Linked DNA regions of Homo sapiens: region 1 is linked to region 2. The links come from fine-mapping of genetic effects on gene expression. A gene starts in region 2. The other region holds a variant in brackets. All regions are shown on one strand. Distances are between the middles of the regions. Region 1 overlaps CNST (consortin, connexin sorting protein). Region 2 holds the start of CNST (consortin, connexin sorting protein).

Evidence for each region.
Region 1: its variant is fine-mapped to the expression of CNST in whole blood (TOPMed, PIP 0.94).

What each region holds. Positions count from the first base shown.
Region 1 is chr1:246,646,620-246,652,000 of GRCh38, reverse strand. It overlaps CNST (consortin, connexin sorting protein), which reads right to left. Exons shown (of 11, transcript NM_152609.3): 9 at 3,964-4,862. Among named protein-coding and RNA genes, the nearest start is that of SCCPDH, 75 kb to the left of the region's middle. RefSeq lists an enhancer at 3,740-4,939. The variant G/A (reference allele first, on the strand shown) is at 3,353.
Region 2 is chr1:246,563,643-246,568,973 of GRCh38, reverse strand. CNST (consortin, connexin sorting protein) reads right to left here and starts at 2,518. Exons shown (of 11, transcript NM_152609.3): 1 at 2,311-2,518. It overlaps TFB2M (transcription factor B2, mitochondrial), which reads left to right and starts at 2,713. Exons shown (of 8, transcript NM_022366.3): 1 at 2,713-3,148; 2 at 4,540-4,628. The coding sequence starts at 2,836. RefSeq lists enhancers at 1,914-2,413, 2,454-2,513, 2,744-3,023.

The DNA of each region.
Region 1 (5,381 bases), 83 kb before region 2:
GCTTCATCTGCATAAAAATCCTTACGTGTATTTTCAGTCACTGCATCTGTAATGCGGCCCTCACAGAGAAGTCACTCAATAAAAATTACAGAATGAGAGAATAAACGAGTAAATCTTTCCAATGTGTTGTCTGACAATGCACATGTGATCATTTTTTTTCTTAAAAATCTATGAAAGGAGGATAAAATTTTTGATGCTTTTTAAAAACAGTATACAGTATAAACTATACTTTTGATGATAACGTGTCATGCTATTTTTTATGTAAGAAAGAATAGCAATACTTCAGATATTAAGCTATCACTTTACATAGCAAATTACTGGGTTTGAAAAAGCTTTCCAAACCTAGACAAGTTCCCTTTATACATGTCACTATATAAATAGTATAGACATTTTTAGTTCTCTGTGACATTTTATGTAAATTATTTCATTTGATCTGATGAATCCAACTGTTCAAAGCAACACAACAAAACAAGTGCTTGCACTGGGCTGGCAATGATGATCAAAACCAAATTCCACTGGAGCCAAGGCTGGGCAATGCAAAAGTGGCAAGAAAATGAAAGCAGACAGACAAGAGGAAAGGGGAAAGCTGGCAAAGAAAGAACAAACCAGCATGCTCTACCACAAACACAATGGTAGAAAGAGGGAAGTAAGAGAACCTGGGCGGGGAGAAATGATAGGGAGATCTGGGAAAGCGAACAGAGAAGGACCACCTGCGATAGCACAGCAGCGTGGAGGGGTGGAGGGGGCAGACTCATTGCCTCGGGGTTCCTAAGTGCAAGAAAAATGTTGTTCATAATTACTTGGTTATTAAGAGATCATGTTCTATATCCTCTAATCACAAACGGAAGGAAGCATAAAAAAAAATTTCAAAAACAATTCCAGTAAAATCAGCCAAGTGTGACAGCAGAGATCCCCCAAAAGGCCAACAACATCATCTGATTTCTCATTGTATCCTCAGCACCAAACACAGGGAAGACTCTTAATAAAATTTTACTGAAAGCACAAACAGAAAAAGTGTTTGAAGGCCAAGCATGGTAGCTCAAGCCTGTAATCCCAGCACTTTGGTAGGCCGAGGTAGGTGGATTACTTGAGGCCAGGAGTTGAAGACCAGCCTGGCCAACATGGTGAAACCCCATCTCTACTAAAAATATAAAAAGTAGCAGGGCATGGTGGTGCATGCCTGTAGTCCCAGCTACTCGACAGACTGAGGCACGAGTATTGCTTGAACCCAGGAGATGGAGGTTGCAGTGAGCTGAGATCGTGCCGCTGCACTCCAGCCTGGGCGACAGAGTGAGACTCTGTATCAAAAAAAAAAAAAAAAAAAGTTTGAATTAAAATTTTATATGTTCAAATCTAAAAGAAATTTTTAAAATAAAAATCCTAAGTTTGCACTTATAAGCAAACCCACAATTGCCTGGATATTTTACTTGGTCCAAAACCTCATTGTTAAGGTATTAGAAAATATTAAGTATTAGTGATTTTTAGCATTGAAACTTTAAAAACTCCTTTCCTGACAGAGTTAGGCAGACTTTGTTAAACCATGCTTTTCAGAATAGCGAGGGTAGTAAGTATTCAGAAAGCAAATGTTTAACAATCTGCTTGGCATTGTCATAGGAAAGTAAATTAGTTTTGTAAGTCATGTATATGTAGCTTTTGGGGTTCTTAAAATAGCTTAACTTAATAGATCAATATAATCTTAGGAAAGGAGACCATTATGTATTAACTTAATAGAAAAGACAACTTTAAACACATGTAATTTCCACTGTTAGCTGTTACCCAGCAGAAGTGACATTGTGTTTTGAGTCTGAGGAGGGAATATTCCATTTAATTGTAATACGCAACATTAATTTAACAATCTGCCACCTTAAAATATTTTTTCCCCAATATAAACAACTCTTTAATTTCTTAGAAATAGGATGACTCAGTTGAGAACAATTTTAAATTTAGTGATGTGGGGAAAAATAATTTGGGAAAGGGATGTTGATCAATTGTAGGCTTTGGAAATACATGTCAATAGATGACTGAAATATACAGGAGAAATGCTACAGACCTTTGATACATCCACGACAAGACCCTTGTGCATCTTCAACACAGCTGAGTAGGGAGGAGGTTGAAGATAAAGGTTACCAAAACTCAAAGAATTGCTCTGGAGGGGACATCTGGCAAACTAGATGATAGAAATTTATCCAGCCGAACAGCTTTCAGGCAGAAGCAAAAATTGAAATTCCAAAAGTTCCTATTATCCTCCCAAATATGAGTTACTGGGGAAAGATAGTTCTAAAAAGGCACACCATATGATTATCAGTGTGTAACTAGTCAAATGTTGAAATAGAGGAAAACGTTTTATAAGGTGGGCAAGACAACAGGAGCTCTCTGCTTCTTCTTCACAGTTTATACCTAAAAAGGTAAAATTAGACCACATGGGTTCTCCCTTTATGGTCAACTTGATTGTTGGCATGAGAAAGGACAGTCAGACAATGGTAACTTTTTGGTATTACAGCTAAGATTTGAATATGGGTATAAGCTTTGTGTTGTTAACTTCCTGTACCAGAGATTTAGTTAAAATGTACAAGAGAATGAATACCGGATTAAGTGCTATACCATTAGCTCTAATTTTTTAAAAAACTATTTTTAACATTGTGGAAAAATATATATCACATGAAACTGCCATTTTAACTCTTTGTAAGTATACAATTCAGTGGCATTCATTGCAATCAAAACGTGTACCATCACCACCATCTATTTCCAACATTTTTCATTGCCCCAAATGGAAATTCTGTGCCCATTAAGCAATATTAAATAATTTTGTTAAGCAAAAACTACGAAAAAAAAAAAAAAACAAAACAACAGTCTGTAGAGAATTAACTGCAAATGGCAACCAAGCTGTCTGGTTAAAATAAGAGAATGAATAGTAAGCCAAGTGCTTTACTATTCTATCTAATTTTGGCAAGAAAAAAATTAAAAAGAAAAGTCATTGTTTATAGAGAATTGACTATAAATGGCAATAAAGGGAGCTAGTAATATAGCAGCTATAATTACCTTAGACAGCTTTTCAGTCTTCTGTTTTCACATATATTTTACTGTCTACTTTGGCTTTGTTACTTTTTCATTTTCCCCCTTATTTTTTCAATGATAATGCTGATTTAGAACACAATGAGTACAAATGGGACTTAAAAGTGAACTTGGGGGGAAAAATGGTGAAGAAAAGGAAAGGCAGCTAGTATCCTAATTTTCAGAGAAGAAAACAGGCTTACAGAGGTAAAAGGTAACTCCAAGAAGCTGTTAACTACCTGGTGGGATTGTACTGGAACTAAGGCAATCGAATTCTGCTCTACCACACCAGGCCGCCTTC[G/A]TGAGTGTGCTGTAGTTTGGATATGGCTTTTATCTTTTCTTTTTCCAAACTTTTTTTTTGTATTATCAAACAATGAAAAATGGTAATTTTTCCTTAATCTCTTTTTTCAACTTAATATAAGGTTAAAAATTAATCTAGTACCTCTTATATTTTAAAATGTTCCCTCTATTCTTTAGACTATTTTAAAAGACTTAAAAAATATATTAACAAGAGGAAGAAACAGTAAGTACATATCATATTTTATCTGCTAGATGTATGAGAAGAAAAATGAGACTTCCTTATTAGAATGTGACTATTCTGGTTTTGATTCCAATATCTGGAACTGCCACATAACAGTCAGGACTATAAAAAATGGATATATACAATAACGCTCACTCTAGCTGGAGGCATGCAATAGAACATCTTGTAGTATGAACATTGCAATGATTAAAAGTCATTTTATTCAATACATACAAATGTAAAAACTACTAATAATTAAAAGCTTACGTTAACTAGAATTTTCCCTCATGTTTGAGACAAGGGAAAACTTACAAAAACAAGGCAATATTTAATACATATATATGTTTTTTAAATGCCATTTTACTTTTAATTGTACTTCATCTCTGATTTACCTCTGCAATCTCTATCCTTTTGGCAAGATCATCAAGAGAAAGACAGCTCTCATCAGAAGGCAGATTCTCCTGGAGACTATAGGATGCTTCTTCAGGAGAGAGATCTTGAAGGAGATCGGAGTCGTCGTCTTGGTTATCTTCATAGGAAAGGGAATCTTCAGTATCTTTTAAACATCCTTCTAAAAGGCTGTTCAAATAGTCTTCTGTTTCTTTGTTGAGTTGGTCGTCTTTATCTCCCTTTTCCTCTGGGGCCATACACACCTCTGGAAGCAGTATGCCTAAGTCAGATATTTGATTATTTCCACAGAGCACATTCTCAGAACCGTCTGAGTCAGCCTGCGCCTGTGGTGATTTTCCATCACTGTCTGTAAGATCAGGCTGCTGCAGCTCATTTAATTCATTGTTCTCAAGTTGGTCTGTGGGCAACGCCTCAGAAGCATCCCGAAGTGGCAAACGGAGTTCTTTCCTCTGAGCCTGTGAATATTTACCCTCAGAAATCAATGCAGGAGGTATACGGTCACAGCCTGGTGAAATCAACGGCTCTGTCTTTGACTTGCTGGAAAGAAACACCTTAGGGTCTTCAGCAATGCCCTCTATTCTGGCCACATCCTGGCAGGCCTCTGTTTGAGCCAGCTGCAAGCGACTGTCATCCTCACAAGCATCCTCAGAAGAGTCTGGCCCAGACGGGCTCCCTGCTGTCTCGGAGGACTGGGTGTGGAGCGCTAACGTGGCTTCAGCGCTGCAGAGCAGCTCCTCCATGTGGTCCTTTCCTGCAGTTACCGAAAGGCTTGGGGAATCTGTTTGCACGTCCATCTGATGACAGCAGGGACTGCTCCCCAGGGGCTCCACTGTATGTTGGCTTTCTTTACTTGACTCTGTGCCGAGACAAGTTTTACTCTCTAAAGATGAAGAAAAATAAATTGTTAAAAATTCAAAACAACACTTTGTATAGGAAGGAAAAGAAGGGACATATGAATATGTGTAATACAGCAATATTCTAACCCTTTCAAATGGAAATTCTGTCTGTTGCATAATAGTGTCTTTAGGTAGAGGAAATACCCAAAATATTTAGTAAAGAATCCTTATACATAACAGGGATTATTCAAAAGCATGTGAATATGAATAAATCACTTAGTCCTCATTAAAATCAACAAAGTCATTTTCAAAGGTTTAAAAGATATTCTGAACTTTATTAAACTTTTACATTAAAATGAAGTTACAAAAATTATTTTCAGCACATTTAAGGCATGGTGTATGGGGCCAGGCACAGTGGCTCACGCCTGTAGTCCCAGCACTTTGGGAGGCCGAGGTGGGCGGATCACCTGAGGTCGGGAATTCGAAACCAGCCTGACCAACATGGAGAAACCCCGTCTCTATTAAAAACACAAAATTAGCTGGGCGTGGTGGCACATGCCTGT
Region 2 (5,331 bases):
TTGCATGAGGCCAGGAATTTGAGACCAGCCTGGGCAACATAGCAAAACTCCGCCTTCACAAATAAATAAATATATTTAAATGTAAAAAGCAAGAAAAAAAGTATTTTAAAGGCGTGGTGGCTCACGCCTGTAATCCCAGCACTTTGAGAGGTGGAGGTCGGAGGATCACCTGAGGTCAAGACCACCCTGGCCAACATGGCGAAACTCCGTCTCTACTAAAAATACAAAAATTAGCTGGACATAGTAGCAGGAGCCTGTAATCCCAGCTACTCGGGAGGCTGAAGCAGGAGAAACTGCTTGAACCCGAAAAGCGGAGGTTGCAGTGAACCGAGATGGCACCAGCCTAGGCGACAGAGTAGACTCCATCTCAAAATTACTTCAAAAAGGCAAAAACAGCATAGGATAGAAAACCACACTTCTTAAGAAAAAAGATGGGAAATACTGCACACTAATCAAGTTTTTCTAATAAAGTATGTCTAAATCCTGATCATAAAGTTCATCTTTAAGGTGAAATCAACATTCTCAGCACCTGGGACCTCAGAAAAAAAATAAGATGTACAAAAATCTCTTATTATTCAAGTACCTTCAATTACAAACAAGTGAACCATCAACACTGTAAAAAGGGAATATTATAATGTAATTCTCTTTCCCAAAACCAAGAGAAAATAATAACACTCAAAAGCAAAATAAAAAATGACATCAGTTTTTCTAGGACTCAGTAGGCTAACTTTGGTCCACAAACATTATGAAATAAGACAGTGCATTTTAAAATAACTGTTTTGTTTTTAACCACAATGTGTTTATTTTTCTTTTTCTCTTTTTCTTTCTTTCTTTTTTTTTAAGGAGACAGAGTCTATGTTGCCCAGTCTGGCTTCGAACTCCCGGCAGCAAGTGATCCTCCCACCTTGGCCTCCCAAAGTGCTGGGATTACAGGCATGAACTACCATACCCAGCCACCACAGTGTTTTTTTTAAAAAGTCAGAAATTCAACGACACATTTCTATGAGTGAACCATGAAGACATAATTCTATTTTATCTGATTTAAAAATATTTAGGACTCCAGGTCCTGGAGGGGGAAAAAAGTGTATTTCTGAATCTATGAAAATGTTTTTTAAGGGGAGAGGGGGAGGCAGCTCAGTAATGGAGAGAGGTTCAGAGGATGCAAAGTCACCTCTAGAAAATTGTCAGTGAGAAAACTGTACGAAAAAAGAATTTAAGCAAATTAAGACCAATGAGTGAGTCCCCACAGTTTGCACAACAGTTGATGAGATATTTTCTATGATGTCCTAACAAATTTATAATACACAAAAGGTCATATTTAGTTGTCAATTCTTTATCCGCTTGAGCTTCATCAGATGAGTATAATCTTCAGACTATTTGCTGGGTGATACATTCCTTAGGAACCTTTTCCTCGTGCATTTAAATGCCAAACTCAATTACACTCTCAGTAGAGTAAGCAGAAAGGATTGTACGTATTCTAAGACACGGAGTTGATTGGCTGCCGTTTCTTGCCTTGGTGGTAAGGATAATGGGTAAAAGCTCTAAGTTTGATCCTGAAACACGGAAAACACTCTCAAAGAACCGTGTCTTCTAACATTGCCCAATAGGTAAAAAAAAAAAGACTGCCAAAATTTCCATTACAGCATCCTATTTTTAGTCTTCAAAATTGGGTCTTTTAAATCGCATTCCACAGTACGATGTGTTTGACTAAGTTTACATAAGGAATACAGTAAGCATCCTAAAGTCTTAATCTTTTTAAGCTTAGAAAGGAATTGTAAGCTTTTACATCTTCATTTTTAATCTTAACTTTAAGTCTTTTAAACACACAAACTGAAAAAATTAAGGAAAATATTGGCCCAGAGAGAGGAATGGAAGGGAGACACCACGCGGTTCTTGACAACCAAAGTGGTAGTGATGGGGGGGACCAGGTGTGGGGGGGAAATGAAAACCATCCACGAGGGTGGGGAGAGCGGGCTGTGGGCCACACAACAGAAAGGAACGGAGACCGTGGAAGCCGCAGGCTCCTCCAGGAGCCGGGTGAGGAACGACTTCTGGCGCTAGTCCCCTAGGGAGGGAGAAATTGGCGCGACGCGCAGCAATAGGAGACCCACAGTAGCTGAGAAAGGAGAGGAAAACAGGCGACCTGAGAGGCGGAGGAGGTAAGGGGACCGGGCTACACCTCACCCGGAGGGCAGAGGCTGCGCGGCTGGAGGAGGACAGCGCAGGGGGAGGAGCGAGAGGCTTCCGAAAGGCTTTCCATCCCGGCCGCGAGCCGGCGGGTCCCCTGCATCCCGCTCCTCCTCTCCTCACCTGGGAATCGGAGGCGCAAGGAGGGCTACCGCTGGGCGCCGGGTCTGTTTCCAGCCCCACTCGGCGACATGGCGGCCGACGTGCTGTCACGGAGCTTGCTCGGGTCTCCCCTGGCTCCGGTGGAGGAGACACCTCTCGCCTTTCCGCCCCGCCTCCCTCTGCGCACCCCTCGCGGCTGGCCGGCTGGAGGCTGGCGGCCCGCGACCGCGGAGCATAGAGCACTGGCGGCTAGAGAGGAAGCGCAGAGCGCGGACAACCATAGAGTACGAGTCCGGACACCAGCCGGATGGTCGGTCGCTCTCCTCAACGGTCCACTCACAATCCTCGGGCGGCTGAGCCGAGGCGGAAGCGGAAGTGAGGGAGAAAAGCAGGAAGGCTCCGCTGTTCGCATGCGCAGGCTCTAGTGTTTACTTCCGCTTGACCTGGCCCGGACGCCAGAAAATGTTCCACGTGGGATACCCTGCGTGGGGTTCACTGTAGTAGCTGCACTAGGTGATTCTTGGAGCGGGCCTGAGAGACAAGGACATGTGGATCCCAGTGGTCGGGCTTCCTCGGCGGCTGAGGCTCTCCGCCTTGGCGGGCGCTGGTCGCTTTTGCATTTTAGGGTCTGAAGCGGCGACGCGAAAGCATTTGCCGGCGAGGAACCACTGTGGGCTCTCTGACTCCTCTCCGCAGCTGTGGCCCGAACCGGATTTCAGGAATCCGCCAAGGAAGGCGTCTAAGGCCAGCTTAGACTTTAAGCGTTACGTAACCGATCGGAGATTGGCTGAGACCCTGGCGCAAATCTATTTGGGAAAACCAAGTAGACCTCCACACCTACTGCTGGAGTGCAATCCAGGTGAGTCCAGCTGAATTGCATTTTCTTGGATGTTCATCATTTATTCAAACGTATTGACCCTCCTCGGGGTGCTATTTTAGATACTGGGGGGTCTTTTTTGTTGTTCTTTTGCTTTGAGACGGAGTCTCGCTGTGTTGCCAGGCTGGAGTGCAGTGGGGCGATCTCGGCTCCCTGCAACCTCCGCGTACCGGGTTCAGGCGATTCTCCTGCCTCAGCCTCCCGAGTAGCAAGAACTACAGGCGCGCGCCACCACGCCCAGCTAATTTTCTTATTTTTACTAGAGACGGGATTTCGCCGTGTTGGCCAGGATGGTCTCGATCTCTTGACCTCGTGATCCTCCCCCCTAGGTCTCCCAAAATGCTGGGATTAGAGGCGTGAGCCACTGCGCCCGTCCAGATACGGGTCTTTGTTTGAAGCTCCTTAGTTGGAGAGATTGCCCACTACATAAGCGTAGAGTCTGTATCGTTAATGACACCACAAAGTATTTCTGTAGCAGCTTGCACTTTACACAATATTTTGATAAAACATGCTCTTAGATCTTATCTCCCCAAAAGAGTTGCAAGCCTCTGCCAGCTGAAAAAATGATGTTATCTTATTCTTCCGTGCATTCCCTATAGACCATAGCAGGATGCTAAGAACACAAGATTTATAGGCTTTTTGAATGATAGTTTTTTAAAGCACCATTTCATATCACAGGGAGTCAGTTCTGTTTAGGCTTGACAATCTCTTTGATGGTTAAAGCATCCGTGTAGTCCGTGAGGAAGTGATAGGCTAGAGGCAATCTATTTTGCTGTGACTTTTTTCTTCTAAGAGGTAGTGAATCATGGTGATGAAGAGTGCAAGTTTTGACCTGGTGCGGTGGCTCACGCCTGTAATCCAGCACTTTCAGAGGCCGAGGCGAGTGGTTCCCTTGAGGTCAGGAGTTCCAGACCAGCCTGGCCAACATGGTGAAACTCCGTCTCTGCTTAAAATACAAAAATTAGCCGGGCGTGGTGGCGGGCGCCTGTAATCCCAGCTACTCGGGAGGCTGAGGCAGGAGAATCGCTTGAACCCAAGAGGCAGAGGTTGCAGTGAGCCGAGATTGCCCCACTGCACTCCAGCCTGGGTGACAGAGTGAGACTTCGTCTCAAAAAAAAAAAAAAAAGAGTGCAGGTTTTGCAGTCGCTGACAATGATTTCAAAGCCAAGCTGCATCACTTTTGACGCTGGAGTCAAATAAGTATATATAATCTCCTGTTTCCTTATATGTAAAAAGGAGAGTGACATCTACTTTGCGGATGCTGTCAGATTTAAAAACCAGGTAATAACGTGTGAAACATCTAATGAAAGTTTGGTATTGAAAGAGATTATGTTTCTTGTACAAATAAACTTTTCGTTCTGTTAATGTGCCAGGTCCTGGAATCCTGACTCAGGCATTACTTGAAGCTGGTGCCAAAGTGGTTGCGCTCGAAAGTGACAAAACTTTTATTCCACATTTGGAGGTATATTTTTAGTTTCTCAACGTATGTTATTGTTTGTTCAACTATCTGTGAGTGGTTTAAGGAAATGGAATTAAGCACACAGTGTTTTACATAGAATATCTTTTAGGGAGCCATCTCTGAAATATCTTGTTTATTCCCAAAGACTAGAACACAGTTAATATTCAGTGCTGTTGAATGGCTGAAACATGAGGAGTTCTAAGACTTGTTTGCTAGTTCTAGGTCGGCTACAGCCTAGTTGGGTGACTTTGAACAAAGCGTATAACTGGCATCCCTAGGCTTGTTTCCCCATTTCTACTAAGCTGCGCTGTGCTCCTTTCTTCTGTGAGCTTGGAATCTAATTGGAATAAGTGCTAATATTAGGTTAATGGATCTGTGTAACCTCTATATTTAGGGTTTGAAAGGCAAGAAAGGTTGGCATACAAATTAAGTATTTTATCTGAAATGCTTGGGAACACAACTGTTTTGGATTTCAAATTTTTTCATATTTTGCAATATTTGCATATACATAATGAGATATCTTGGGGATGGGACCCGAGTCTAAAAATTCCTTTTTTGTTCCATATACATCTTATTCATAAGGCCTAAAGGCAATTCTGTATAATATTTTAAATAATTTTGTGCATTAAACAAAATTTGTGTACATTGGACCATCAGAAAGCAAAGGTGTCACTATGTCACCCACCCATGTGAACAATCTCCTTGT